Linked DNA regions of Homo sapiens: region 2 is linked to region 1. The links come from fine-mapping of genetic effects on gene expression. A gene starts in region 1. The other region holds a variant in brackets. All regions are shown on one strand. Distances are from middle to middle.

Evidence for each region. PIP is the estimated chance that this variant, and not a neighbour inherited with it, causes the effect.
Region 2: its variant is fine-mapped to the expression of CEP43 in whole blood (TOPMed, PIP above 0.99).

The regions. Positions count from the first base shown.
Region 1 is chr6:166,988,024-167,002,469 of GRCh38, forward strand. It overlaps CEP43 (centrosomal protein 43), which reads left to right and starts at 11,374. Exons shown (of 13, transcript NM_007045.4): 1 at 11,374-11,491; 2 at 12,037-12,090. The coding sequence starts at 11,390. It overlaps MIR3939 (microRNA 3939), which reads right to left and starts at 9,889; the gene lies at 9,784-9,889. RefSeq lists an enhancer at 9,856-9,905 and silencers at 10,446-10,675, 10,966-11,485, 11,576-11,735, 11,746-11,835.
Region 2 is chr6:167,074,583-167,090,576 of GRCh38, forward strand. No RefSeq gene overlaps it. Among named protein-coding and RNA genes, the nearest start is that of CCR6, 41 kb to the right of the region's middle. RefSeq lists enhancers at 4,272-4,451, 5,282-5,621, 5,667-6,167. The variant G/C (reference allele first, on the strand shown) is at 9,541.

The sequences.
Region 1 (14,446 bases):
GTGTTAATCAATTAATTCCAGCCCTGATACACTGGCCAGATTCTGAGGCTGAATGTCAGATACTGAAGTAATGGGAGTTAAAACAGTGAGTCAAAACAGCGAGTTAACCACAAATCAAAGTAGTTCTTCAAGAAGGAGCAGTACAGAGCTTCCGACACACTGAGAATGTGCATTTCCAAGGTTTGAACGTACCATATATGGCTATGGTACCAGGCCTATGGCTTTTGAACCAATGAATTTTTTGTATACATGCACTTAGCAACACAATAATTACATTTATAAAGGGGGCTAGGCATTGTAAAGCTAAATAAATAACAAAATCCTCAGAGAATTAGTAAAAGAAAAACACTTTCATATTGTTCTCAGCATTTATTTTAAAACACCTAATTTGAAGGTATCAATTAACATAGCCAATTAACTGATAATATTAGCTATCCGTTTTCCCTCTAAAGCAGCCTTGTTGTCTGGGATATCAGCTGAGGTTTTTTGTCTCATGGCCACAGAAATGAAGAATGCAGACACACAAAGGGTGAAGTTAGAGAAGTGTAATAGGCAAAAGGAAAAGGACAGCTCTCTCTCACAGAGAGAGGTCCCAGACGGGTTGCCGTGCTGCAGTAAAATGGAGGGTTTTTATCAACGAGCTAGTAGGGAGCGGGTATCTTATCTACATAGGGCATGAAAACCTGGTTAGGACCAGGTGTGTCATCTGTATAGAGTGGAATCTCTGGCAGCCCCTACCCCATTCTTTTATCATGCAGGCAGGCTCTTAGCTTGGGCGACTCCACACTGCCTTTCTCCTTCCACCTTGCATGTGCTAACAAGAATAGGGGGAGTTTCCATGCCTTGTCCTGGGTACCTCCTTGCAGCTGCAGGCATTTCCCCCACCCCACCATGCAAGCTTCTAGCTAACCTTAGTGTGTCCCTGTCCAAAAAAGGGGAAAGGAATGTGCTCATTAAAGCCTACTGTTTTTACTGGGACCCATTTATGTAAGTTTGGTGACTACCCAAGAAACTCTCCCTCTGTGCCGGAGATGCTTATCTACATTATACAGTCCAATCTTCCAGGCTGCTCTTTGTTAAAAGAGAAGTGATTTATTTGGACTGCCTGTGGTTAGAATGGAAGTAATTTCTGAGCTGTTTTTTGTCAGAAGAAAAGCTTTTGTCAGGGACTCTTTCACCCTATCTACCTACCTAAATTATTTCTATCTCCTGTATTGCCTCTACCCATCTTAGTTCTCTGGCTGAGGTCCTGTAAATTAGACTGGCCAAAGACAGGTTTGTAGCCACAGACAAAACCCCTCAGACACCGAGTTGTAGAAGGAAGGGCTTTATTCAGCTGGGAGCATCAGCAGACTCACGTCTCCAAAAACCGAGCTCCCCAAGTGAGCAATTCCTTTCCCTCTTAAGGGCTTACAACTCTAAGGGGGTCCACATGAGAGTGTCATGATCGATTGAGCAAGCAGTGGGTATGTGATTGGGGGCTGCATGCACTGGTAATTACAATGGAACAGAACAGGACAGGGATTTTCACCGTGTTTTTCTTTTTCTATAAAATGTCTGTAATCTATAGGTAACATAACCGATTAGGTCAGGGGTTGATCATTAACTAGCATGTCCTGCCTTTAGGCAAAGAAAGGGAAGGCAGAGTTTTTCTTTTATTTGTTTCTTCTCAATCGTCTTCAGCTCAAAATAATCCTTATGCCAAAGAAGCATATGTTAGGGTGGCATATTCTGGTGTAACATCTTTGTCTCAGCAGGCAGTGAAAAATAATTTAAAAAGCCACCTTCTCTGCCTGCTGCACACTGCCCCTTGGTGGCCATCATTTTAACTGTCTTTGGTAAAGGTAGCTTTTCTTTTTTTTGCTTTGAGACGGAGTTTCGCTCTTACTGCCCAGGCTGGAGTGCAATGGCACATCTCGGCTCACTGCAACTTCCACCTCCCCAGTTCAAGCGATTCTCCTGCCTCAGCTTCCCGAGTAGCTGCAATTACAGGCGCCTGCCACCACACCCAGCTAATTTTTGTATTTTTAGCAGACGGGGGTGTTTCACCATGTTGGCCAGGGTGGTCTTGAACTCCCGACCTCAGATGATCCACCCGCCTAGGCCTCCCAAAGTGCTGGGATTACAGGTGTGAGCCACCATGCCCAGCCCAGAATGACCTTTGCTATCTCTTGCCTTCTGCATCTCTTCATTCAATCATTTTCTCTTAGTTTAATTCTAGTCAATTAAATTAAATTCTATAAATATTGAGAGAAAGCAAAATATCATGAAAAGAACATGAGCTGAAAACCAAATAGACTTGGGTGGTTCATCTCAGCTGCTAGCTGTGTGTCTGTGGGCATACTACCTAGCTTATTGGAACACTGTCTCATCTGTAAAATGGAGTTGTTTAAAAATAACTCAACATGCTCAGATCATGGAGAAAATGAAATTAGGTTGTATATTCAAAACAACTAATAATAGTTAATATTTTTATTATGTTATGATTGGGATTTTGAATACAATCTACTATCTAGCTATACATATTCACATCTACGGAGATTTTTATCCTAATTTACAAACAGAAAACTGAGGCAGAGAGACATTAGCTAACTTCCTGTGGTTAACATAACTAGTAAGTGGATTTGAACCCATGTAATGTGGCTGTAAAGTCCATGCTTTTAACCACTACACACAACCTGGTAAATCCTTGTTGAAATAAGAAAGCAATTTCAGTAAGTTGTACTGTACCAAAAGAAATGTGGAATTCATCTCTTTTCCCAACATGCTACTATCTTTTGAACATTTAAAAAAACTAATAGGCCATTGAGAACCTTATTTATTCACCACTACCTAAACTATCCTGATCTTTATGGGAACAGAATAGATGACTTCAATGAGAAGGCATTAATATTACTGAGTGCAGACTGAAAGACTATCTCGATGATTAACGACACATTTTCATTTTTTTTTTTTTTTTTTGAGATGGAGTCTCATTCTTGTTGCCCAGGCTGCAGTGCGGTGGCGTGATCTTGGCTCACTGCAACCTCCGTCTCCCAGGTTTCAAGTGATTCTCCTGCCTCAGCCTCCTGAGTAGTTGGGATTATAGGCACGCGCCACCACTCCCAGCTATTTTTTTGTATTTTTAGTAAAGATGGGGTTTCACCATGATGGTCAGGCTGGTCTGGAACTCCTGACATCGTGATCCACCCACCTCAGCCTCCCAAAGTGCTGGGATTACAGGCATGAGCCACCATGCCTGGCCTTCAATTTTTAACATTTAAGAAAAAGTGACATTCCAAGAATATGCAAGTGGAAAGCCAGAAAGCATTTCCCCTATCCTATCCTGAGTTTATTCTCATAAGAATCTAGTTGTTTAAAAACTAAGTTACTGGAACATATTTGTGATTAATTTTATGTGTCAACTTGACTGGGCCATAGAGTGCCCAGATACTTGCTGAAACATTATCCTGGGTGTGTGTATGAGGGTGTTTTGGGATGAGATTAACATTTAAATGGATAGCCTGAGTAAAGCAAATTGACCTCCCTAACATATGAGTGAGTCTCATCCAATCAGTTAGAAGCCTGAATAAAACAAAAAAACTGATCCTCCCTGAGTAAGAAAGAATCTCTCCTGCCTTCTGATCTTTTGACTGGGACATCAGCTTGTTTCTTGCCTTCAGACTCAGATTGAAACACTGACTCTTCCTGGATTTCAAGCCTGCTAGCCTCTGGTCAGGAACTATGCCATCAGTTCTCCTGGGTCTCCAGCTTGCTGGCTCATCCTGTAGACTTGCCAGCCTCAGTGATCTTGTGAGTCAGTTCCTTATATGAATCTCCTTATATATATACCCGTATACATACATATATCGTATTGGTTCTGTTTCTTTGGTAAACCCTAATACAATATTTATATTTCTTTGTTTTTTTTTTTAGACAGGGTCCCACTCTATCTCCCAGGTGGGAGTGCAGTGGCGAGATCATGGCTCACTGCAGCCTCAACCTCCCAGGCTCAAGTGATCCTCCCACCTCAGCCTCCTGAGTAACTGGGACTACAGGCCATGCCATCACGCTTGGCTAATTTTTGTATTTTGTGTAGAGAGGGGTTTTGCCATGTTACCCAGGCTGGTTTTGAACTCCTGAGTTCAAGCAATCTGCCCACCTCACCCTCCCGAAGTGTTGGGATTACAGGTGTGAGCCACCGCCCCGGCCAATATTTATATTTCTCAGACGCATCCTCTTTTTTCCATGTTCACTTGTGCAATTTTAGTTGATGTCCTTCTTCTTTCCTGGACTATTGGAATAATTTCCTTGTTCCAGTGTCAGTACATCCAATTCACCCATCCCCTCCTTGCTTCTGGAGTGCTCTTTCTAAATACAAATAGGCTAATGACATTTTGCTTTTAAACTTGTTTAGCACGCTATTTCACACCTTCAAGATGAAAGTCAAATTCATTAGATTGGTGGATAAAGTCCTTCCCAATCCAGTCATTTCTTCATCTCCAGCCACGCCACACTACCTGCCACTTCTTGCACAGAGCAATCTGCCTTAGCCTCTTGGTCTTGCACTCTTGTATGTTCGGGTACTTCTGCCTGGAATGCCTCTTTCTTATTCAATCAGGAAACTCTCATAACAGGTGTGTGTGTCTGACATTAAGTGTCACCTCCTTAGCATACATCTTGGATTTACCTCCCTGAAATCCAGGGGTGAAGGAGTCAGGGGTCTTTTTCTATTCATTGCCTTCAATTGAGCATACTTGCAGGGTGTGTTAATTCCTTGGCACTTTAGGTCTTCCCAAAATGCAGGCAGAGCAGGCTCTGGTGGACAAAGATAGCTGATAATGCAAATAACTTCAGGTGCCGGCAGTTGGAAGTTGGCCCAATGTGCAGAATGTTCTGTTCAGGGGCATGTGGGCTTGGCCTAACAGATCTGTTATAGCCCTAATATCATACTGTTGTTGGTTTTTCAATCAATGCACAAAGTTGGAAAGATATAGAGCTGACCCTGAACAACAGGGGTCTGAACCAGTGTGGGTCTACTTATATGCAAATTGTTTTCAATATATACAGTTGGCCCTCCATATCAGTGGGTTCCACAACTGAAACCAAGAATAGGTGGAAAATACAGTATTCTTGGGATGCGAATGGTCATATCCACAGGTTCCACAGGGCCAACTGTGGGATTTGAGTGTATGTGGATTTTGGTGTATACGAGAGGTCCTGGAACCAATCCCCCATGGATACCAAGGGATGTCTGTAATTTTATTTACAAAAAGAATGCAAATTCTTGACAGACTAAAAATGAGAATGAAACTAACAAAATTAGGAGGGGGAGGGGAAAAGACGAGAAAGTAAGAATGTACCAATTCCTCACCTCTCCTAGTAGGGAGCCAATATACAGTGTGTAAAATTTATAAATAATGATTTAGGTAAACAACCTAAAGTCATGAAAGCTTCTAGCAAAACTAAAAGTAATACAATTTTTTAAATTAGGAGTTAAGAATAAGTTTTTGTCCCTTTGAAGGATTTTCAGCTGGTGAGTCAAGATGTATATGTACAGTATTTAAGGTTATAATGAAAAGAACCAGAAGAACTAAAACCAGAAATTGTTAATTGCAGTTGGGTCTAGGATATGGTAACAGATAAGGTAGGTGGGTAGGTAGGTAGAGTAGCAGGGAGACCCTTACTTTTCTTTTAATATGTTCCCCCCTTTTGTTTGGATTTTTAACGATTATTATGCATTATTTCCATAACAAACAAATGTAAATAAAGTGTAGTTTAACTACAAAAAGTAACTTTTAGAACACCCTTAACAAATATTTTGTAGGAGTCAAATGAGGTAGGATCTATACGGTATGCATGAACATCAAAAAATGATCAGGACTTCTTAAGTCAAGTTAGTAAACTAAAAGATAATAGGCATAGGATCCAAATTACAGAGAGGGAGGAAGTATGTGTGTGTATGTAACATATCTATGTACAGTTGACCCTTAAGCAACATGAGGTTAGGGGCACAGACCCTCACAGTCAAAATTCCATCCCCCAAAACTGTAGTAACAGCCTACTGTTGATCGGAAGTCTTACCAACAACATAAACAATTAACACTTTTTTTTTTTTGAGATGGAGTCTTGCTCTGTCACCCAGGCAAGGAGTGCAGTGGTGCAATCTCGGCTCACTGCAACCTCCGCCTCCTGGGTTCAAGAGATTCTCCTGCCTCAGCCTCCCGAGTAGGTGCGATTACAGGCACGCACCATCATGTCTGGCTAATTTTTATCTTTTTAATAGAGACGGGGTTTCGCCATGTTGGCCAGGCTGGTCTCAAACCCCTGGTCTCAAGTGATCCGTCTGCCTCAGCCTCCCAAAGTGTTGGGATTACAGATGTGAGCCACCGCACTCGACAATTTTGTATGTTACATATGTTATATACTGTATTCTTATAATAAAGTAAGCTAAAGAAAACGTTTTAAGGAAATCATGAGGAGAAAATATATTTACTCTCCATTAAGTGTAAGTGAATCATCATAAATGTCTCCGTCCTCATAATTTTCACCTTGAATAGGCTGAGAAGCGGGGGTTGGCTTTGCTGTCTCAGGGGTGGCAGAAGTAGAAGAGGTGGAAGAGGAGGCAGGAGAGGGAGGCACAATAAGTGTAATCTGATGGAGATACATCATAATTTGTCTGACTTTTTTGCTTTTCCATTTCTCTAAACATGTTTCCATTTAGCACCAATTCTTCTTCCACCATTTGCTTTAGATTCAGTGCCTGTTTCATAGAAAAGTCCATGTTATAAGAGAAGTCAAAAGCCATATTGAATAAGTGGAACCCTTCTGCCAGATTGTCTAATGTCAATTTGTTTTCTGGCACTGCTTCGTCTTCTTCCTCATCGTCTGGCACTGGGTTCAGAAGGAGTCATCTCCATCAAGTGGTCTTCTGTTAATTCCTCTGGTGTGGTGTCTCTTAGCTCTTGAATTTCTCCAAGATTTGTATCTTGAAACCTTTTTTGCCATATCTGCAATCTCTTTCATGATTTCCTTGATTGGCTCTGTCATAAATCCTGTGAAGTGATGCACAACATCTGGAGTTCCTCCAGCAGGAATTTGTTTGGGCTTGATGGCTTTTCATGGTTTTTTCTGAAACAACAATGGCATCTTCAATGGTGTAATCCTTTCAGACGTTCATGATATTCTCTCAATTGGGGTTCTCTTCCACAGAGTACTGTGTGTAATGATCCTTAAAGTCCTTATGACTCCCTTATCTAGAGGTTGAATTAGAGGTGTTGTGTTTAGGCGCATGTAGACCATTTCAATGTGTTTGTATTGAACTCATGGGGTTCTGGGTGGCCAGGGGCATTGTCCAATATCAAAAGAACATTAAAGGCAATCCCTTACTGGCAAGGTACTTCCCGACTTTAAAAACAAAGCATTTATATAACTGATCCAGAAAAAGAGTTGCTGCTCAGCCATCTTGCTGTACAACCAAAAGAGTGGCAGGCAGTGTTTCTTTTCCCTTCAAGGCTCAATTTTATAGATAAGGGCAGTCCTGATCATACATCTGGCTGCATTTGCACAAAACAGTACAGTTAGCCCATCCCTTCCCGCCTTGGATCCTGATGTTCACTTCTCTTCCTAATAAATATCCTCTGTGGCACTATTTTCCCCCAGAATAGGGCATTTTCGTTTGCCTTAAAAACCTGTTCAGGCAGATATCTTTTCTCCTCAGTGATTTTCTCTATTTTTTTTTATTTTTATTTTTTATTTATTTTTTTTTGAGAGAGTCTCATTCTGTCTCCCAGGCTGGAGTGCAGTGGTGCAATCTCACTGTAACCTCTGCCTCCTGGGTTCAAGCGATTCTCATGCCTTAGCCTCCTCAGTAGCTGGGATTATAGATGTGCACCACCACACCTGGCTAAATTTTGTATTTTTAGAAGAGACAGGGTTTTGCCATGTTGGCCAGGCTGGTCTCGAACTCCTGGCTTCAAGCAATCCACCCACCTCAGCCTTCCAAAGTGCTGGGATTACAGGCATGAGCCACAAAGCCTGGCCTTTTGTCCTCAATAATTTCCTTAATGGTATCTGGGAACTCGTCGGCTGCATCTGGGTCAGCAGAAGCTGCTTCTCCTGTTATCTTGACATTTTTTGAAAGCCAACCCACTTTTTAAAATTATCATACCTTCCTTCATCTTCCTTTTGCTTTGTCAGATAATGACTTCACTTTTTCTTGAATATTAGATTATATAGGTATGCCTTTCTCATAGCAATCCTGCACCCACAAAAAGCTGCATTTGCAATATGAGATAAAAAGGTATTTCCCAAAAAGTGCAAGGTTTTCATGCTTGTTGGTGTAGCTGCAGCGATGGCTTCATAAACTTCCTTTTGTTTTTATACCACAGTCCTTATACTGGATTCATTTATCTTAAAATGGCAGGCGACCTTAGCTGCAGACCTCAATCTACAATACACAGCAAGCAATTCCGCTTTTTCTGTAATGTCATTAACTTTTCTCTGATTCTTGGGAGCATTTCCAGCACCACTAGCGGCACTTCGTAATGGTCCCATGGTGTTACGCAAGGTTTACAGTACTGCAGTGAACACAACGAGAAATATGTGAGAACCTCAAGAGCTTACCTTTTACTGTGATATGCAATGTACTGGAGAGATCAACTGCTCACTCAGAGATGATTATGTTACTTGGAATTTTTAGCCAATACCAGCAACACTGACGCTCACTGCAATAGCAACAGGAGGTGGCTACAAAATCATTACAGTAGTACTCTATGTACTACAGTGAATTTGATGCAGTTATTATTTAATATTGCATCTTTACAACTGTTTACACCTCTCTTGAACCTAATGGGTGCCATGTAACTGTCTGTTTGTACGTGTAAGTTTTGATAAATTTTAACTTTTTATAACAGGCTTGTATATATTTTATGATAGTAAATAATAAAATGGCCTAGTATCTACATATATTTTATGCATTCATGACATATCTAGCTTTTTCTTTTCTTTTTTTTTCCATATTTCTTGGCTAAGCGACTCATCTGTGAGGTTTTTCACAAAATTGTTGCCATCGCCAAAAATATTCCATTTACTGAAAAAAATCCACATATAAGTGTACTCACGCAGTTCAAACTAATGTTGTTCAAGAGTCAACTGTATAAAAGGTATTAATATGTCTGGAAAGAGATATGTTTCCAATTTAACAGACACTACCAATGAGAAGAGTTGGGCTAGGCAGGAAACTTCAAATTTTCCTTTTTTACTTTATATATTCTATTTGTATCTCAACTTATAACCTGTGGACCACGTTTATTAGAAGAAAATGCAGATTCCTGAAACTTCCTGCAGACCCCATGAGTGACAATCTCAGGGAGATGGAGTTCCAGAATCTGCTTTTTTTCATAGATGTTTCTTTGCCATTCCTGTGTATATCTGAGTTTCAGTAGCACTGCTAATCAATTGTTTGGGGTTCTCTCTCCTTCACCAGCATGTTCTTGCAAAACTAACCAAACACATATAAAGCGCAAACAGTACAATAGTGCACTGCACCTTCATGACCCTTACCTGTTCCAGCCTCTTCCTACCTCTTCCACATGTGATATGTGTGTACATACCCACAGACAGAAACACAGAGACATGTTTGGAAGCCAGTGTGGATGCCCTGTGATCTGTGTGTACACATGACAAGTGCATACACACGCACATAAAGGAACCCAGAGACGTGTTTGGAAGCCAGTGTGGACACCCTGTGATCTGTGCGTACACATTTGACACCTGCGTACACACTCACAGACAGAAACACAGAGATGTGTTTGGAAGCCAGTGTGGACATCCTGTGGTCTGCGCGTACACATGTGACAGGTACGTGCACGCCCACATACAGGAACACACAGAGGCCTTTGGAAGCCAGCATGGGCAGACAGGCCCTATCCCAAAGCGGCCGGCAGGCGTCTCCTAAGAATGGTTCTCGGACACACCTCTGAAAGGAAAATACAACTCGGCACCGCAGTTGACTCGGCCAAAGGAAAAAAACTTAAGCTGAAAGCTGAGGCCTGCCCGAAGGAGCCTTTCCTGTGGCGCCTGAGCCGAGGGCTTCAGGGAGAGGGCCGCGCATCGCAGCGCAGCCGCCCGTCTTCCCGTGGCTTCCCTACGGCCGCGGCTCCCGCTGCTCCTTTCCGCCGGCCACGCGGGTCGCACGACCTTCCCCTCCCGCCCACCCTGAGGCGCTGAAGCCCTCGACGCCGGCCTCGGGAAAGGCGCGGCCACCGCCCGTTTCGGATTCCCGTTTCCTTCCTCCGGGCGCGTCCTTCACCGTGGCCAAATCAGCCTCTCAACTGCTGGAGCCCGGCCTCGGACACTTCTCGGCTTACGCCGCCATACAGTGGCGCACCCCGAAACCCCGGAACCGACAGCTCGGCTGGCCTTGCGCACCCACACTCTCCAAGGCAGGGCTCGGTCCGGGGGCTGGTTTTGCCAAGGCGAGGGGCGAGGGGCAGCCCAGGCGGCCGGATGGATACCAAGAGGGCGCGTCAGCTCCGGCGGGACGGGGCTTCCAGGGCCCGGGAGGGGTCCAGGACTCCCCGCCGGCGCCTGGCTGTCGGCGGAGGGCCGCGGGGCAGGAGGGAGTGGAGACTGCGGCCCCAGTTCGGGCAGCGCGGAGCCCACCCAACGCCCTCCTCGGCCCTCGGCTCTTCCTGGGGCCATCCCGCCCCTGCACCTCGGCCTGGCACCTTTCCGGTTAGCCTCGGAGGCCGTGGCCGAGCAGGGTGCGTTCGCCTGGCTGGGGGGCCTCAGAACGTTATTTCCGGGTGACAACCTGCAGGGCCTTCCGCCCCTCGCGACCTCTCGGGAGTCCCTTCCCCGGCGCCCCCCCGGGGCTGCAGGGGCTGCAGGTTCGGTCTCGGGGCCTCCTTACCGCAGTCCGCCCGGCTTTAGGCTAGTGGGCTTTAACTACGTCGATAATATGACTCCGGCGATCTTGTGCGGCGATGGGATGCGGCCGTGGGCGGTGGAGTCCAGGCGGAGTCCGCTCTCCACACGCGAGGGCGCCTCCTCCTCACCGCTCGCCGGCTTCAAAGCTCGCGCCTCAGGCGACGGCAGCCAACGGGTTGCCGGCTGGAGGCCCCGCCGACGCCCCGCCCCTTGCGTGCCCACCCGCGCCCCGCAGCCCCGCCCCCAGCGCCGACCCTAAGTTTCGGCGCTCAGTGGTCCGGCGCTCCCCAAGGCTCGGTGTCCAGCGTCAACCCCGAGGTCTCTATGCCCCGCCTCCCGACGCCAGGGGGCAGGGCCAGCGCGCTGCGCGTCGGGGCGGGGCTTTGGCTGCGTCGGCCGCGTAGCCCGCGCGCGGAGCGTACCCTGCTGCGGCCGTTGGCCGTTAGCGCGGCTTCGGCGGTTGTCTTGGAGAAGCAAGATGGCGGCGACGGCGGCCGCAGTGGTGGCCGAGGAGGACACGGAGCTGCGGGACCTGCTGGTGCAGACGCTGGAGAACAGCGGGGTCCTGAACCGCATCAAGGTGAGGCCGGAGGCTGGGGCCGGGCCTGGCGGATCCGCAGGGCTTGCGTGGACAGCGGGCGTCACAACGGTCGCGGCGAGGAGGCCGCCTCCCTGGCGAGGGACCGGGGCCGGCGGGCACTGGGGGCGCGCCCCGGCATGGCCTCCGTCCTGCCCGCCCCACAGAGGGGGTCGGCTCGTTCGTTCGTGTGGTCCCGGAGGGCACCGCGGACTGGGGGTGCCTGGCCCATCCCCTGCCTCATTCCGTGGGGGCGGGACCGCGGGGCTTGGGGGCCACACGGGCGGCCCGCAGCTGGGCCCTGGAGTGCGGCCCCAGCGTCTCTTCCTCAGGCTCGGGCATGATCCGCGGCGGGAAAGCAGCGCGTCCAGCCGAAGCCTGGGGGTCGGAGAGCTTGTGTGACTGAGAACGTTTCGGAAGGCGTTTCTGACCTTTGCACCTGCCCTCCCAGCTCGTTGGCTTGCTCGTGTTTGTTGCTGGATAAATGTGAGCTTGTTGTGAAAATTGTCTTGAAATTATAATTTCCTGTTTCTTAACTTTTTTTTAAGGCTGAACTCCGAGCAGCTGTGTTTTTAGCACTAGAGGAGCAAGAAAAAGTAGAGGTATGAAGTTTCCAGATTTTAACATGGCTGTATTCGTTAATACTTAATTTCTTATTCATTAAAAACCGTCTTAAAAATAGTTTATAGTAACATATAGCTAGGGATAATTTTGAACTGTTAAGGATTACATTACTATTGAGAGAGAGCCAAAATTATTCTTTTTTCGTGTAGCTTTTGAATTTGGGGGTAATCTTAAGGTACCACAGTAACTCTGATACTAATGCTTAATCTGAAACAAATGGTCATAGGAGTTTCTTGAAGAAATGGTGCCATTGTCAATGTGTTAAGTGCAGGTTCACTCAGATCCTTTAGTAAGCTAATATGTTATTAATCCCTATGAAACGGGGTATATAGTATGCAACTTTTCCCAAAATTATCTGACCACTCAATTATTTTGACAATGAAAAAGACAGCGATTATTTTAAAAGTGCAGCCACTACTCTATATTTAAGTGGGTAATTTAACTTTTTCGGAGTCCCACCAACCATCCTGAGTAAATATTCTGGAATTTGTCAACAAGAATAGAACCATCATCAAAGCCTTAAACTCTTGCTGTATGACAAATCAGTCTACTGTCCTCTCACTTCTTTAGACCTGTATACCTAATCTCTAATTTCATCAAAATCTTCAGTTCTTTGCCCTTTCCATGTCTGTGCAGGCATCAGTCTTCTCTTGGCAGCATTTTGCTCTGGACCCTATGGGTCTGGACCCCTAATTACCTTGCCTTAACGGTCATACGTGGTCTGGAAGAAATCTCAGTGGTCATTTAACCCAGCAAACTAACTCTTCCCACTTTGCACATATGTGCTCTTGGAGAAGAGTCAGTCAATCCTGTGGATTGCTGATGTTGCAAATTGGCAGGTACCAACCTGGTTAGGTCCTGAGCAGGCCCAGCAGCTCTCTTCTTCACCCTAGCTGTGCAGTAGCCTTCTATGTCACCCCTGCTTCCTTCTCTCTGAACACATGGTCTTGTTGCTTCCTCCACAGGGAAGGTAGAAGCCATTAGATCCTAACTTTATGTCCTCCTCTCCTGTCCCTCAATCTATTGCTCACCTGTGAAAATGCTTACCTGTGTCTATGTTTATCTGTACCTCTTTCCTTACTGCTTTAGAAGAAGAGGCTCTGTCCTGTCCAAGAATAATCACTCTGTCTTGTGTATACTTTCAAGTCTTTAATTATTTACTGTATCTTTGACCCCTTCCTTTTCTGATGGCTTTTCTTTTGAGCTTGAAAACATGTTTAAATAACTATTAGGAGTAAACTGTTTTCCTTTACTCACATTCTGCTTTTAATACCGCTGTGGTTTTTTTCCTTCACAACCTGGTTTTGACCACTCCTTGGTTTCTTTAGCATGATCTTTTTCCTGTACACCTGACTGAGACTTATCCACAGTTGTCATTCTGTACTGTCTCACAGACTGACCTTATTCATCCAGTAACTCCAGCCCTGTAACTTTCATGCATGTTTCTTTCCCGAGCTTCAGACCTGTATGTTAAACTGCCCACTGTATTATGCCCTTAATGGGACCATCATTTATCTGGCAAGAAATCTAAGCGTTTCTTAGGCCTTGCTCTTCTTTCCACCTGCTCAGCCATCACCTGGCTCTGTGTCTGTCAGGTGTGTATCTGAAGTGTCCCCAAGGGAGTGCTCTGCTGCCTCCTTTGTGCTTGTTTCTTCTTTTCCAGATTGCCTTATCCCCTTCCTACTTGCCAGTCTCCGTTTCCGTGGTGTCCCTCACCATCTCCCTGAAGTCCTTTTTCCACATTGCTCCTAGATTGGCTGTTTATAGTACACATCTGATCTGTCCCTCCATTCTCTTAAAATATTTCAGTTGACTCCCTATCTTAGAATTCCCTGAACCAGCCTACCAACTACCTTGAGGATCTCTCCTCTCCTTGTCTTTTATTTTAACAACTTTATTGAGGTAAAATTGACCTATAGTAAAGCTAAAGTATTTAATATGTACAATTTGATTTTTAATAGTTAATTTATGCAGCTGTGAAATGATCATCACAATCAAGGTACTGCGCATATCCTTCAAACTTTTGACCTTCAAAAGTTTTCCTTGTGCCCCTTATGTAACCCTCTCCCCCACCCCAAACCTTTTTAAGAATTATATAAATGGAATCGTATAGTAGGTACTCTTTTTTTTTGGTCTGTTTCTTCAACATAATGCATTTGAAATTCATTCATGTTGTGGTATGTATTAATAAATCATTTCATTAATACATTGTACAGATATGACAGTTTAGCCATTACCTGCTGACAGACATTTAGGCTGTTTCCAGTTTTTGAGTATTACAAATAAGGTTTCTGTGAACAGTCACATACAAGTCTTTGCTTGGATCTGTGATTT
Region 2 (15,994 bases), 87 kb after region 1:
AGAAATTAAATTTGTTTAACAGCAAAATCTTTCAAATAAGGAAACTCTAGATCCAGATGATTTTACTGATTAACTCTACCAATCATTTAAAGAAGAAATAATAGAAATCCTTCACGAAGTCTTGCAGAAATGAGGAAGAGGGAGCACTTCTCAACAGACACCAAACCAGACGGACAGTGCACTAAAATAACCCCCCAACACCCATGTCCCTCATAAACACAGATACAAAAATGTGGAAAAATATTAGCAAATGAAATCCAGCAATAGGTAAAATTAATAATACATGGTGACTACATTGAGTTTTTCTGGGGGAGTGCTAGGGTGGCTCAATATTTGAAAGACAATGCCATCCAATATGTTAACATTCTAAAGAAACACCACCTTATCATGCCAATTTATGTAGAAAAATCATTCATTTGATAAAATTAAACAGCCATTCATGATAAAATTCTCAACAAACTAGGAATAGAAGGGAATTTACTCAACCTGATAGAGGATGTCCACAAAAAACCTACAGCTAACATGATGGTGGAGGAATGAATGCTTTCCTTCCAAAGCTGTCCATTCTCATCACTCCTGCTCAATATTGTACTGGAAGTGATACCCTGTGCAATAAAAAAAAGAAAGAAAAGCTTACAGATTTGAAAGAAGATACAAAACTGTTCCTACTCACAGACTTGGTGATTTTCTATGTAGAAATCCTTGGCCTTAGGATTCCAGACAACCTTGATCCCCCTCCAATTTCTCACACTGTTCACTCAGTGTATTCAGCTAGTGTTTAGCTCTGTGACAAAGATTCTCTGTCACCTGGGTCAGAGGAAACTAGAGCTGACTCAGGGTCCAGCTGGTTCTCATGCTTTACATCCAGTTTGCTCCCTTCTTTCCCACTCGACATCCATTTTCGTTCCTGACTGCCTGCCCTGCCAACCTGAAGCACCAGCATCAAATGGAGAGAAAACAAACTTACCTTCCGAATAGATTTTCTACTGGTTTTGCTTCTCTGGTTAAACTCTGAGACAGTTATTTAATCTCTCAGTTTCATTATCTAAAAATGGGAAATCATACCTATTTAATCAGTTCAATCAGTTCATGGTTTTTGGTTTTTTTTTTTCCTTTTTGAGATGGAGTCTTGCTTGATGCCTAGGCTGGAGTGCAGTGGCGTGATCTCAGCTCACTGCAACCTCCACCTCCCAGGTTTGAGTGATTCTCCTGCCTTAGCCTCCTGAGTAGCTGGGATTACAAGCACAAGTCACCACGCCCAGCTTATTTTTATTTTTTTGTGAGGACGGAGTTTCCCCATCTTGGCCAGGCTGGTCTCGAACTCCTGACCTCAGGTGATCCGCCCGTCTTGGCCTCCCAAAGTGCTGAGATTACAGGCATGAGCCACTGCACCCGACCATCTCATGTTTTTAGAAACATACTTGCTAGGTATTTTTTTCTGTTAGAGAAAAGGGATCTACCTGTCTCCCTGTCTTCCTTCCTTCCTTCCTTCCTTCCTTCTTTCCTTCCATCCTCCCTTCCTCCCTCCCTCCTTCCTTCCTTCCTTACTCCCTTCCTTCCTCTCTCCCTCCCTCCCTCACTTCCTTCCTTCCTCTCTCCCTCCCTCCCCCTTTCCTTCCTTCCTTCCTTCCATCCTCTCTCCCTCCCTCCCCTTTCCTTCTTTCCTTCCTTCCTTTTTTTGCTTCAAATGACATGAGAAGAATGATTTAGTGTTCCATCGAACGTTTATCCAAAAGTAGCAGAGAGTTATATTTAAATGGCAACATTAGTTCACCATTTCTGCCCAGTAGAACTTGTTCAAAGACATCAGAAAACCTCCCCTTTCTGAAGGAGTCACCTGGACAGTCCACAGACCCCAGCCATGATCAGAGCATCTCCCAGTGTCTGTCCCTGAAACCAGGTGGGCTCATGCCAGCGAGTGGGGTGGGGTGAAGTGTTTTGAGTTGGGCTATTGAAACAGGGAAAAGGTTCCACTTTCAACAGGGGGCTGGAAGCAAAGCAGATGCTATCTGCACCCCAGTGAAAACTGTACCTTATGGGACAAAGGCAGAGCAAGATTGTTGGGCTGGACTCTGCCTCTGAGTGTCCTGAAACTTGCCTCATTGCAAGGAAATAAATCTAAGTTAGACTTTGTCCAGGAAGGTGAGGCAACCCCTAATTTTGTCAAGATTTTGAGGCAGTACTAAAGGGGTGGTGAAACTTGGTGACTCGGAATTAAGACCTATTTTCTCATCTTCTTTCTCCTGGAAATTTACCTATAGTGTTTTTATCTGCTAAACTCTTTAGAGTGGAATACTTTAGACTTGTATTTTATAAATCTTAGTTACCAGAGTCCTTAAAATTTTGGATAGATCTTGTCTAAACTAAAATAGTAAATCCTTGGATCTTAATTAAACATAACCATTATAGAAATCAAGTTGATGTGTCAATTTTTGAAAATTCATTCTCCAGCTCTCCAGAAAGAAGGGGAGAATGGATTTGGGGGAACAGCCAGCAGGTGGTTACATTGGTTTTTTCTTTATAACAAAGCCTCAGCAGTTTGGCAAAAAAAATCGGTTCAGTTTCTGATTTTTCCTTAAAATAACCTGGACAATGTGGTGACTAAGTCAGATGTGAGTTGGAGACAAAGCACCTGGCCTGGGAGATGTAATTACGAAGCAGATCAGCTTCCTGAGTCCCCTTTTGACGCTTCCCCCTAGTGCCCCATAGCCTCATTCCTCACGGTGCAGCTGTTCAGCATCTGACCTTTCCAGTGACCTCCAGAATGGCTTGCCCTTCCTGGAATCCAGTCCTATAACTCGTACCGTCATGTGGGGAAAGAGGGTCAGTACATAACAGGCCAATTTTGTGTTGAAATCTAATTCTGAAGTGCACGGATTGTGTTAGGGTCAAACCATTTCCACTCTCTCCGAGTCTCAGTTTCGCATCGGTAAATGGAGATAACACCTAGCTTGCATAAAGGCTGTGAGTTTTAAATGGGAAAACCATATCTAATACATAGTGGGTTCTCAGACTTTATTATTTTCTGCTCACCTCTGCGATTCCCAAGCTGTCGAGGATGTTAAGAGGACCGAGTTCTTGCCAAGGTCCGTCAGTCCTCAGCAATGCGTAAGGCTGTTAACAATTGTCTGTGGGGCCGCCACACAGAGCCAGCAATTCTCAATGGTGTATGTTCCAGACATAGGGCGCAGGTGTAGAGACAGATCCATAGGTCACAGCTTCTCTGTTTACCAAGAGCAGAACATAGGCCTGAGCTCTGACCCTAGTTTCATTGCTTACAGGCCTGTGACTCTGGGTATGTTTTCTTTCCTCTCTCAATTCCACTTTCCTCATCTGTAATATTTTTTTTTTGCATAGGTTTATTAAGAGAAATATTATTACTCCATGCAAAGTACTTAGCACATTGCTGGGTACAGAGAAATCACTCACATATAGTTAGCCAGAATTATGAATGCAGCCTGTTTGATAACATCTAGGAAGTGAAATCCCACACTCTTAAAAAGGTGAAGAACAGATTGCAATGATCCCAGCACATAAATAGCCTTCAGAGTCTGTCAAAAACACATCTTGGTCTTAGTTCGTTCTGGCTGTTGTAACAATAGACATTTATTTCTCACAGTTCTGGAGGCTAGAAGTCCAAGATCGAGGTGCCGGCAGATTCGATGTCTGGTGAGGGCCCAATTCCTGGTTCACAGACGGCACCTTCTTGCCTTCACTGCATCCTCACAGGGAGAAGGGACGAAGGAGCTCTCAGGGGTCTGTTATACGGGCACTAAGCCCATTCATGGGGTTTCACCCTCACGACCTAATCACCTCCCAGAGGCCCCACCTCCTAATAGCATCCCTTTCTTTAAGGGTGAGGATTTTGACATAGGAATTTTGGGGACCACACAGATATTCAGCCCATTACACCATATTGCATTTTAGAGAGACGTAATCCAGTCCATTGCAGCTTCTCTTGCAGAAGTGCTCTAGAAGGGTAAGACAGTTTTAAGACTGTTTATCTTTATGCAAATCTTTGTTTGCCTTTGGATTTTTCCAAACCTGTTACTTATGATAAAACACCCATACCAGTAAGGAGAGGCTAGACTCTCCTACAGTAACCAGCAGCCTCATGTCTCACCTGGCTCTGTGTCCTCCCAGGCCTGCCCCACAGGGCTGTCACTTGGAGGTGCTGCACGTGGTTCCACCCTGTGGGGTACCAGGGAGAGGAAAGAACAGAGCAAACTGGACACCAGAACCAGAAGGCTTCGCTCAGAAGTGCACACATTGCCTTCGTCTCAGTAAATTAGCAGAGCAAGTCCTGTAACCCCCGACAGTGATGAAGGCTGATCTGTTCCGTGCTCAGAAGGCGGAGACCTGGAAATACTGATGAAACACGAATGACTGCCCCACAGACACAGAGAAAGATGAGAGATTCTGGAGCACACTAATTTCACTTTCAGATAACATGACTCTGGCGTTCTATAAATGCCTGTGCCATGTGAGATGTCACAATGGATGACAGCTTTTTATTCCCAGAAGAAAATTCAAAATAAGACTCATCATTTTATGGTCTAATTTAAAGTGATATTTAGGAATACCTTTTTCTAGGAACACCTTTTTCTAGGAACTAATAATCAGATAAAGTTGGGTTTGGGACTGTAGACTTGGAGCCTGAAGCAATACTCTTTCTATAATGAAAATCTGAGTATAGTTGCTTCTAACAGCAAGTGAGGATTTCCTACAGAGTGTTGCTGAGGGGCTGATAAGAAACCTTTTCAGAAAGAACAGCAGATTCCTATAGACCCTATTCCCATGGAAGCATCAGCAGGAACTCCTTTTCTTTTGGTGAAAACTTTCATGTCATTGGATGATCTGTTATTAGACGACACTGCCTGAGTTCTATCTTACGATGGGGAATTGGCGTTTCTTAAGATCTTCCTTTAAATATAGCACAGATCCCCAGTATGCACATTTTCACAGAGGTGGAAGCTTTAGAAACACTCATGTAGCAGCAGATGTCTACTGTGCTCTAGCATAAGTGGAATGAAATATTCCTTAATATAGAGGGACACACACAGGCAGAACCTCTAGCGGGTCTGTGAATAATGGGAATGAAAAGTGGAAGTCCTATGGCCGGCAAGGTAGATTCCTGGGCTTCAGAGGAGGATATGAAATATTTATAGAAAACAAAATGAAATATGAACAACACATTTATCATGTTCTCCAGGCATGATAATATGTGATTTGCAGATGAGACATTCATTTGAAAAGCAAGTACACCATGAACCCTGGGACGAGGCTGTACGTTCCTAAACATGCTTGGCTTACGGCCTGGCTCAGAGCAGGGCTTGCCACATGTCATGTCACTCACAGCCATTGAGGGGCACTGCCATTTGTGCTGTTGCTGTGCTTTTTGGTCTGTCTTGGAAACCTGGGGAAGTCCCCGTTGTTCCAGTGGGGCCCTTGATAAACGTCTCAGTTTCAGGTCCTCAAGTTGAGACATCCTTTCAGTCAACTTGTGGAGTTTCTAATTCTGTGTCACTGCCTCCAGTAGAGCGCGTTTTGTGGTGGAGAGCGATGAGAGCCTCAGATCCTCGGGAAGTGCTCCACGGGTCCCGGGTCTGGCTCTCATTGTGTGTGCCAGAGCCTTGCTGCCCAAAGTGTGGCCCCAGGCCAGGGCCTTGCTGTCACCTGGAGCTCTCAGGCCCTCCCAGGGCTACTGTATCAGAACCAGTGAATCCACATGAATTCACATTGCAGTGCTTCGTCTGCACATGAAAGCTTGAGAAACACTAGCCTAGAGAACACCTCAGCATCCTTTCTGAATTAGAAGTTATGCTTTCTAGGGTTCTCATTAAGAAATGGGCAGTTGCACAGCCAATCAATGAAAATGGCTTTGCGTTCCCTGAATCTTCAACTTCTGAGAGAAGGAGGAATGTTTTTTTTTCTTCCACTCTGGTCCCCAAGAACCACTACAGGCGTTCCTTACAGAACAGCAAATGACACAGCGTTCAGCCCCAACAAGTGACCCGAAGACGCGTCCCTCATCTCATGCTTGCCTGTCTAGGCCTCACCCTTTCTCAGTTGAAATCAGTCACTGCAGCAGCGTTCGAATGGGGTCACTGGAGAAAACAGCCGCAACTTCCTGGTCCTCCGTGGGAATGGCTGAAAGTGGAAGATGGAGAGAGAATCCTGAGAAAAACCCTCCATAGGTCAGCCCCATGTCAGCCCCAGCATCTATCACCGGAGGGTTCTGAAGCTTGTGGTGCACTGAAGGTGATAATTATAAAAGAAAAAATCAAATCCAGCTCCACTCCTGACTAGATGGGCAAACACTTCATCCCCTGCACCACACATGAAGCTTTCTTTTTTTATTATTATACTTTAAGTTTTAGGGTACATGTGCACAACGTGCAGGTTTGTTACATATGTATACATGTGCCATGTTGGTGTGCTGCACCCACTAACTCATCATTTAACATTAGGTATGTCTCCTAATGCTATCCCTCCCCACTCCCCCCACCCCACAACAGGCTCTGGTGTGTGATGTTCCCCTTCCTGTGTCCATGTGTTCTCATTGTTCAATTCCCACCTATGAGTGAGAACATGCAGTGTTTGGTTTTTTGTCTTTGCGATAGTTTGCTGAGAATGATGGTTTCCACCTTCATCCATGTCCCTACAAAGGACATGAACTCATCATTTTTTATGGGTGCATAGTATTCCATGGTGTATATGTGCCACATTTTCTTAATCCAGTCTATCACTGTTGGACATTTGGGTTGGTTCCAAGTCTTTGCTATTGTGAATAGTGCGGCAATAAACATACGTGTGCATGTGTCTTTATAGCAGCATGATTTATAATCAATCCTTTGGGTATATACCCAGTAATGGGATGGCTGGGTCAAATGGTATTTCTAGTTCTAGATCCCTGAGGAATCTCCACACTGACTTCCACAATGGTTGAACTAGTTGACAGTCCCACCAACAGTGTAAAAGTGTTCCTATTTTTCCACATCCTCTCCAGCACCTGTTGTTTCCTGACTTTTTAATGATCGCCATTCTAACTGATGTGAGATGGTATCTCATTGTGGTTTTGATTTGCATTTCTCTGATGGCCAGTGATGATGAGCATTTTTTCATGTGTCTTTTGGCTGCATAAATGTCTTCTTTTGAGAAGTGTCTGTTCATATCCTTCGCCCACTTGTTGATGGGGTTGTTTGTATTTTTCTTGTAAATTTGTTTGAGTTCATTGTAGATTCTGGATATTAGCCCTTTGTCAGAGGAGTAGCTTGCAAAAATTTTCTCCCATTCTGTAGGTTGCCTGTTCACTCTGATGGTAGTTTCTTTTGCTGTGCAGAAGCTCTTTAGTTTAATTAGATCCCATTTATCAATTTTGTCTTTTGTTGCCATTGCTTTTGGTGTTTTAGACATGAAGTCTTTGCCCATGCCTATGTCCTGAATGGTATTGCCTAGGTTTTCTTCTAGGGTTTTTATGGTTTTAGGTCTAGCATTTAAGTCTTTAATCCATCTTGAATTAATTTTTGTGTAAGGTGTAAGGATGGGATCCAGTTTCAGCTTTCTACATATGGCTAGCCAGTTTTCCCAGCAGCATTTATTAAATAGGGAATCCTTTACCCATTTCTTGTTTTTGTCAGGTTTGTCAAAGATCAGATGGTTGTAGATATGCGGCATTATTTTTGAGAGCTCTGTTCTGTTCCATTGGTCTATATCTCTGTTTTGGTACCAGTACCATGCTGTTTTGGTTACTGTAGCCTTGTAGTATAGTTTGAAGTCAGGTAGCATGATGCCTCCAGCTGCGTTCTTTTGGCTTAGGATTGACTTGGCGATGCAGGCTCTTTTTTGGTTCCATATGAACTTTAAAGTAGTTTTTTCCAATTCTGTGAAGAAAGTCATTGGTAGCTTGATGGGAATGGCATTGAATCTATAAATTACCTTGGGCAATATGGCCATTTTCACGATATTGATTCTTCCTACCCATGAGCATGGAATGTTCTTCCATTTGTTTGTATCCTCTTTTATTTTGTTGAGCAGCGGTTTGTAGTTCTCCTTGAAGAGGTCCTTCACGTGCCTTGTAAGTTGGATTCCTAGGTATTTTATTCTCTTTGAAGCAATTGTGAATGGGAGTTCACTCATGATTTGGCTCTCTGTTTGTCTGTTATTGGTGTATAAGAATGCTTGTGATTTTTGCACATTGATTTTGTAACCTGAGACTCTGCTGAAGTTGCTTATCAGCTTAAGGAGATTTTGGGCTGAGACGATGGGGTTTTCTAGATATACAATCATGTCATCTGCAAACAGGGACAATTTGACTTCCTTTTTTCCTAAGTGAATACCCTTTATTTCCTTCTCCTGCCTAATTGCCCTGGCCAGAACTTCCAACACTATGTTGAATAGGAGTGGTGAGAGAGGTCATCCCTGTCTTGTGCCAGTTTTCAAAGGGAATGCTTCCAGTTTTTGCCCATTCAGTATGATATTGGCTGTGGGTTTGTCATAGATAGCTCTTATTATTTTGAGATACGTCCCATCAATACCTAATTTGTTGAGAGTTTTTAGCATGAAGGGCTGTTGAATTTTGTCGGAAACCTTTTCTGCATCTATTGAGAAATCATGTGGTTTTTGTCGTTGGTTCTATTTATATGATGGATTACGTTTATTGATTTTCGTATGCTGAGCCAGCCTTGCATCCCAGGGATGAAGCCCACTTGATCATTGTGGATAAGCTTTTTGATGTGCTGTTGGATTTGGTTTGCCAGAATTTTATTGAGGATTTTTGCATCGATGTTCGTCAGGGATATTGGTCTAAACTTCTCTTTTTTTATTGTGTCTCTGCTGGGCTTTGGTATCAGGATGATGGTGGCCTCATAAAATTAGTTAGGGAGGAATCCCTCTTTTTCTATTGATTGGAATAGTTTCAGAAGGAATGGTACCAGCTCCTCCTTATACCTCTGGTAGAATTCGGCTGTGAATCCATCTGGTCCTTGACTTTTTTTGATTGGTAAGCTATTAATTATTGCCTCAATTTCAGAGCCTGTTATTGATCTATTCAGAGATTCAACTTCTTCCTGGTTTAGTCTTGGGAGGGTGTATGTGTCAAGGAATTTATCCATTTCTTCCAGATTTTCTAGTTTATTTGCGTAGAGGTGTTTATAGTATTCTCTGATGGTAGTTTGTATTTCTATGGGATTGGTGGCGATATCCCCTTTATCATTTTTTTATTGCGTCTATTTGATTCTTCTCTCTTTTCTTCCTTATTAGTCTTGCTAGCAGTCTATCAATTTTGTTGATCTCTTCAAAAAACCAGCTCCTGGATTCCTTGATTTTTTTTTAAGGGTTTTTTTGTGTCTCTATTTCCTTCAGTTCTGCTGTGATCTTAGTTATTTCTTGCCGTCTGCTAGCTTTTGAATGTGTTTGCTCTTGCTTCTCTAGTTCTTTTAATTGTGATGTTAGGGTGTCAATTTTAGATCTTTCCTGCTTTCTCTTGTGGGCATTTAGTGCTATAAATTTCCCTCTACACACTGCTTTAAATGTGTCCCA[G/C]AGATTCTGGTATGTTATGTCTTTGTTCTCATTGGTTTCAAAGAACATCTTTATTTCTGCCTTCATTTCGTTATGTACCCAGTAGTCATTCAGGAGCAGGTTGTTCAGTTTCCATGTAGTCGAGCAGTTTTGAGTGAGTTTCTTAATCCTGAGTTCTAGTTTGATTGCACTGTGGTCTGAGAGACAGTTTGTTATAATTTCTGTTCTTTTACATTCGCTGAGGAGTGCTTTACTTCCAACTATGTGGTCAATTTTGGAATAGGTGTGGTGTGGTGCTGAGAAGAATGTATATTCTGTTGATTTGGGGTGGAGAGTTCTGTAGATGTCTATTAGGTCCGCTTGGTGCAGAGCTGAGTTCATTTCCTGGATATCCTTTTTAACTTTCTGTCTCATTGATCTGTCTAATGTTGACAGTAGGGTGTTAAAATCTCCCATTATTGTGTGGGAGTCTAAGTCTCTTTGTAGGTCTCTAAGGACTTGCTTTATGAATCTGTGTGCTCTTGTATTGGGTGCATATGTATTTAGGATAGTTAGCTCTTCTTGTTGAATTGATCCCTTTACCATTATGTAATGGCCTTCTTTGTCTCTTTTGATCTTTGTTGGTTTAAAGTCTGTTTTATCAGAGACTAGGATTGCAACCCCTGCCTTTTTTTGTTTTCCATTTGCTTGGTAGATCTTCCTCCATCCCTTTATTTTGAGCCTATGTGTGTCTCTGCACATGAGATGGGTTTCCTGAATACAGCACACTGATGGGTCTTGACTCTTTATCCAATTTGCCAGTCTGTGTCTTTTAATTGGAGCATTTAGCCCATTTACATTTAAGGTTAATATTGTTATGTGTGAATTTGATCCTGTCATTATGATGTTAGCTGGTTATTTTGCTCGTTAGTTGATGCAGTTTCTTCCTAGCATCGATGGTCTTTACAATTTGGCATGTTTTTGCAGTGGCTGGTACCGGTTGTTCCTTTCCATGTTTAGTGCTTCCTTCAGGAGCTCTTGTAAGGCAGGCCTGGTGGTGACAAAATCTCTCAGCATTTGCTTGTCTGTAAAGGATTTTATTTCTCCTTCACTTATGAAGCTTAGTGTGGCTGGATATGAAATTCTAGGTTGAAAATTCTTTTCTTTAAGAATGTTGAATATTGGCCCCCACTCTCCTCTGGCTTGTAGAGTTTCTGCCAAGAGATCCGCTGTTAGTCTGATGGGCTTCCCTTTGTGGGTAACCCAACCTTTCTCTCTGGCTGCCCTTAACATTTTTTCCTTCATTTCAACTTTGGTGAATCTGACAATTACGTGTCTTGGAGTTGCTCTTCTCGAGGAGTATCTTGGTGGTGTTCTCTGTATTTCCTGAACTTGAATGTTGGCCTGCCTTGCTAGATTGGGGAAGTTCTCCTGGATAATATCCTGCAAGTGTTTTCCAACTTGGTTCTATTCTCCCCGTCACTTTCAGGTACACCAATCAGACGTAGATTAGGTCTTTTCACGTAGTCCCATATTTCTTGGAGGCTTTGTTCATTTCTTTTTATTCTTTTTTCTCTAAACTTCCTTTCTCACTTCATTTCATTCATTTGATCTTCCATCACTGATACCCTTTCTTCCAGTTGATGGAATTGGCTACTGAGGCTTGTGCATTTGTCACGTAGTTCTCATGCTGTGGTTTTCAGCTCCATCGGGTCCTTTAAGGATTTCTCTGCACTGGTTATTCTAGTTAGCCATTCGTCTAATCTTTTTTCAAGGTTTTTAACTTCTTTGCCATGGGTTCGAACTTCCTCCTTTAGCTTGGAGTAGTTTGATTGTCTGAAGTCTCCTTCTCTCAACTCATCAAAGTCATTCTCCGTCCAGCTTTGTTCCGTTGCTGGTGAGGAGCTGCATTCCTTTGGAGGAGGAGAGGCATTCTGATTTTTAGAATTTTCAGTTTTTCTGCTCTGTTTTTTCCCCATCTTTGTGGTTTTATCTACCTTTGGTCTTTGATGATGGTGACGTACAGATGGGGTTTTGGTGTGGATGTTCTGTTTGTTAGTTTTCCTTCTAACAGTCAGGACCCTCAGCTACAGGTCTGTTGGAGTTTGCCAGAGGTCTACTCCAGACCCTGTTTGCCTGGGTATCAGCAGCAGAGGCTGCAGAACAGCGGATATTGGTGAACAGCAAATGTTGCTGCCTGATCATTCCTCTGGAAGTTTTGTCTCAGAGGAGTACCTGGCCGTGTGAGATGTCAGTCTGCCCCTACTGGGGGGTACCTCCCAGTCAGGCTACTTGGGGGGTCAGGGACACACTTGAGGAAGCAGTCTGTCCGTTCTCAGATCTCCAGCTGCATGCTGGGAGAACCACTACTCTCTTCAAAGCTGTCAGACAGGGACATTCAAGTCTGCAGAGGTTTCTGCTGCCTTTTGTTTGGCTATGCCCTGCCCCTAGAGGTGGAGTCTATAGAGGCAGGCAGGCCTCCTTGAGCTGCGGTGGGCTCCACCCAGTTCGAGCTTCCAGGCCACTTTGTTTACCTACTCAAGCCTTGGCAATGGCGGGCACCCCTCCCCCAGCCTCGCTGCCAACTTGCAGTTTGATCTCAGACTGCTGTGCTAGCAATGAGTGAGGCTCCGTGGGCATGGGATTCTCTGAGCCAGGCACAGGATATAATCTCCTGGTGTGCCGTTTGCTAAGACTGTCGGAAAAGTGCAGTATTAGGGTGGGAGTGACCCGATTTTCCAGGTGCCGTCTGTCACCCCTTTCCTTGGCTAGGAGAGAGAATTCCCTGACCCCTTGTGCTTCCCGGGTGAGGCGATGCCTCACCCTGACATGAAACTATTTTTTAAGGGCATAAACAGTGTCTACTTTTACACATGATTTCCAGCAGTAAATCAAAAAATGACAGTTAAGAAAACAAAATAAAACAAAAACAAAAACAACTCATAGTCAACTTATAAAGCAATCAATCAATAGAACCAGAATTCAAGATGGCCCAGATGTGGGAACTCTAAGACAGGGGCTTTAAAATAACTCTGATGAGGCTGTGCATGGTGGCTCACACTTGTAATCTCAGCACTTTGGGAGGTCAAAGTGGGCAGATCACCTAAGGTCAGGAGCTCGAGACCAGTCTGGCCAACATGGTGAAACCCCATCTCTACTAAAAAGACAAAAATTAGCCAGGCGTGGTGCTGGGTGCCTATAGTCCCAGCTACTAGGGAGGTTGAGGCAGGAGAATTGCTTGAACCCAGAAGGCAGAGGTTGCAGTGAGCCAAGATTGCACCATTGCACTCCAGCCTGAGCGACAAGAACAAAAACTCCATCTCAAAACAAAACAAAAACAAAAACAAAACAATACAAAAAAGCCCTGAAGAATTTGTTAAATGATCTAGAGGAAAAGGCATATGGCATACATGAACAGATGGGAAATTTCAGCAGAGAGATAGAGAGTATAAAAGACATGTGGGAATGCTACAAAAAATATATAAGACATAAAGAATTCCTTCAGAAAGCTTATCAGTGAACTAGTCTCAGCTGAAGAAAGATTAAGGAACTTGAAGATAGGTCAACAGGAATCATATAAAATGACACACAAATAACATAAAATGGGCTGGGCACAGTGGCTTATGCCTGTAATCCCAGCACTTCAGGAGGCCAAGACAGGTGGATCACAAGGTCAGGAGTTCAAGACCCGCCTGGACAACACAGTGAAACCCCATCTCTACTAAAAATACAAAAATTAGCCTGGTGTGGGGGCATATGCCTGCAGTCCCAGCTACTCGGGAGGCTGAGGCAGGAGAATTGCTTGAACCCAGGAAGCGGAGGTTGCAGTGAGCCAAGATTACACCACTACACTCTAGCCTTGGCGACAGAGTGACACTCTTGTCTCAGAAAAAAAAAAAAAAAAAAAACAACAAAAAAAAAAACATAAAATAGAGGGAAAAACTCTGTCTAACAAGGCCTCCAAGAGCTGTGAGATCATCTAATGTACATGCAGTTGGAGTCCCAGAACAAGCAAACAAACAGCAAGGAATAAAACAGAAGAAATATTTAAAGAGATAATTTGCAAATATAATGCAAGACAGCAAACCTCAGGTCCAAGAAGCTCAGGGAATCCCAACAGTATAAATACAAAAACAAATAAAAAATCTCCATACCAAAAAAAAAAAAAACCCCACCTAGACACATAAAATCAAACTTTTTAAAACCAAAGATAAGGAGAAAATGTAGAATGCATTTGGGAGTTGTGGGGGACATTACATACCCAAGAAGAAAGATAATTGTAATAGATTTCTTGTCAGACATGTAAGCTGGATGTTAATGAACTGACATCTTAAAGTACTGAAACAATTAATCCAGAATTCTATTATTCTATTACAGATCCATTAAAATATTGTTTTAAATTAAAGGCAAAAATAAAAGCTTTTTAGACCCTGAAAAACTAAGATAACTCACTGCTGAGAGACTTGTGCTACAATAAATGTTAAAGGTAGTTCTTTAGGCTATAGGAAAATTATACCAGATAAAAATTTGGGGTTACACAGAGAAGTGAGCACCAGAAATAGTAAAAGTGGATATTAAAAACATTTTCTCATGGCTGATTCTTTAAAAGACTGTCAACTATGGTGGCCAGGTGCAGTGGCTCATGCCTGTAATCCCAGCACTTTGGGAGCCTGAGATGGGCAGATGGCTTGGGTTTAGGAGTTTGAGACAAGTCTGGGCAACATGGTGAAACCCTGTCTCTACAAATAATACAAAAATTAGCTGGGCATGGTGGTGTATGCCTGTAGTCCCAGCTACTCAGGAGGCTGAGGCAAGGAGGTTGAGCCCAGGAGGGTGAGGTTGCAGTCAGGCATGACTGCACCACTGCACTCCAGCCTGAGCAACAGAGTGAGACCCTGTCTCAAAAAAAAAAAAAAAATTGTTAACTAAATTAAAAATAGTAAACAGGGTTTATGACAGATGTAGAAATAAGATACATGAAATCATTTGCACAAAGTGGAGGAAGGAGTTGGAACTATCTAATGTCATAAATGCAAACTACTAAGGAATGATAATATTCTGAAATTGTCAGTTTTTTTTAGGCAAAGTAATAATTTCAGATCAGTTGCTAGTATCAATGAACTATCAATGTTTGAAATGTTTTCAGTATAAGTAGTTCAAGGGTCAGTATGAAACTTAAATTTCGAGGGAAAAAAACTAACATCATTTAATTCTGTGGTTTTCAGATTTAGCTAATATCAGAATCACCTGGAAGAGTTTGTTAAGCAAAGTTTCTGAGCTTTCTGGGCACTATCCCTGAAAAGTCTGATGTCACACATCTCCTGGAGGTAACGCCTCTCTGTTTAACAAGCAGCCTCTGCAGCCAACAGGTTTTGCTTCTCTGGGGAGGAAGTTGACCTCAGCTGCAGTGACCTTCCTGGAGAATTAAACAGAGGGGTGCAGATCCTTACACATGGCCCTCTACCAGGATGACGACCTCCCTCTAGAACAGGAGATACTAGTTTTACTGGTTAATGGCAGAGCCGAGTCAGGGGAGGCCAGAACCAGGCAGAAGTAACTTGAGTTTTCAGCTCTGGAGAGACTGCAGCCTTGGTCAAAGCCAAGAAAATCCCCGTCCTTGCGTTATTGAAGTGGTCAGTGTGAAGAAACAAGAACTCCCCAGACACTGGATCTCTTTGATTGATCTAAAGACCTTTCACTCCAGGCACATGGGGCCCATGAAAACTGTGGGCCCAGCAGCATATCACACCAGCCTCTTGGTGTGGTGCTCTCTGTGGTTCAGAATAGGAGCCTCTCGGGTCACTGTAGGACCCCACCGGCCCCTTTCCTCCAGACATAGGCCACAGATCAGCAATGTATTTTAAGCGACCCCGTTGGCGTTGGGCCATGTGTGTGGCATCTCTGTGGCAGCAGGTGGCCACATGCTCCTGAGTCTCAGACTGGAGGTGAATAGGGCAGCAGAAGAAGTCACCAGTGTTGAGCCAAGTCACAAAGAATAGGGCCAGTGGCAAGGGTGATGAATGGGTCAAGGGGATTGTAGTCAAGGAGCTGTGGGCCAGGGCTGGGCTCCATGCAGGATTGTGCCTGGGGGACCATCGTGGGAAATGGCTTCCTTTGAGCTCCTCAAATGGAAGCAAGAGTCAGCCTGGTTTTCTTCCCTCCAGGGAGCAACACAGAAAGGATTTTCTTTCTTCCACACAAGAGGAAGTTTTTAGGCTCTGCCAAGTAACCAAAGTAATAGAAACTGTGATGTCTCCAGAACTAGCCTCCAACTTCCTCCAGGTGGCAGGAAGGGGAGCAGCCACCTCGCCTCTGTGGCTGCTTTGTTTTTCCCTTCTTTTCTTGTTCCTCCATAGCCTACTTCCTCCATTTTGGGGTTCCTGTATGTAAAGTACTCATTGACCCAGAGATTGTATCTCAAAACCTTGTACCCAAAGGAGCAATTTTCCTGTGAACGTTCCCAAGACAGCGTTCCCAAAAGGTGTTACCAGCCTCA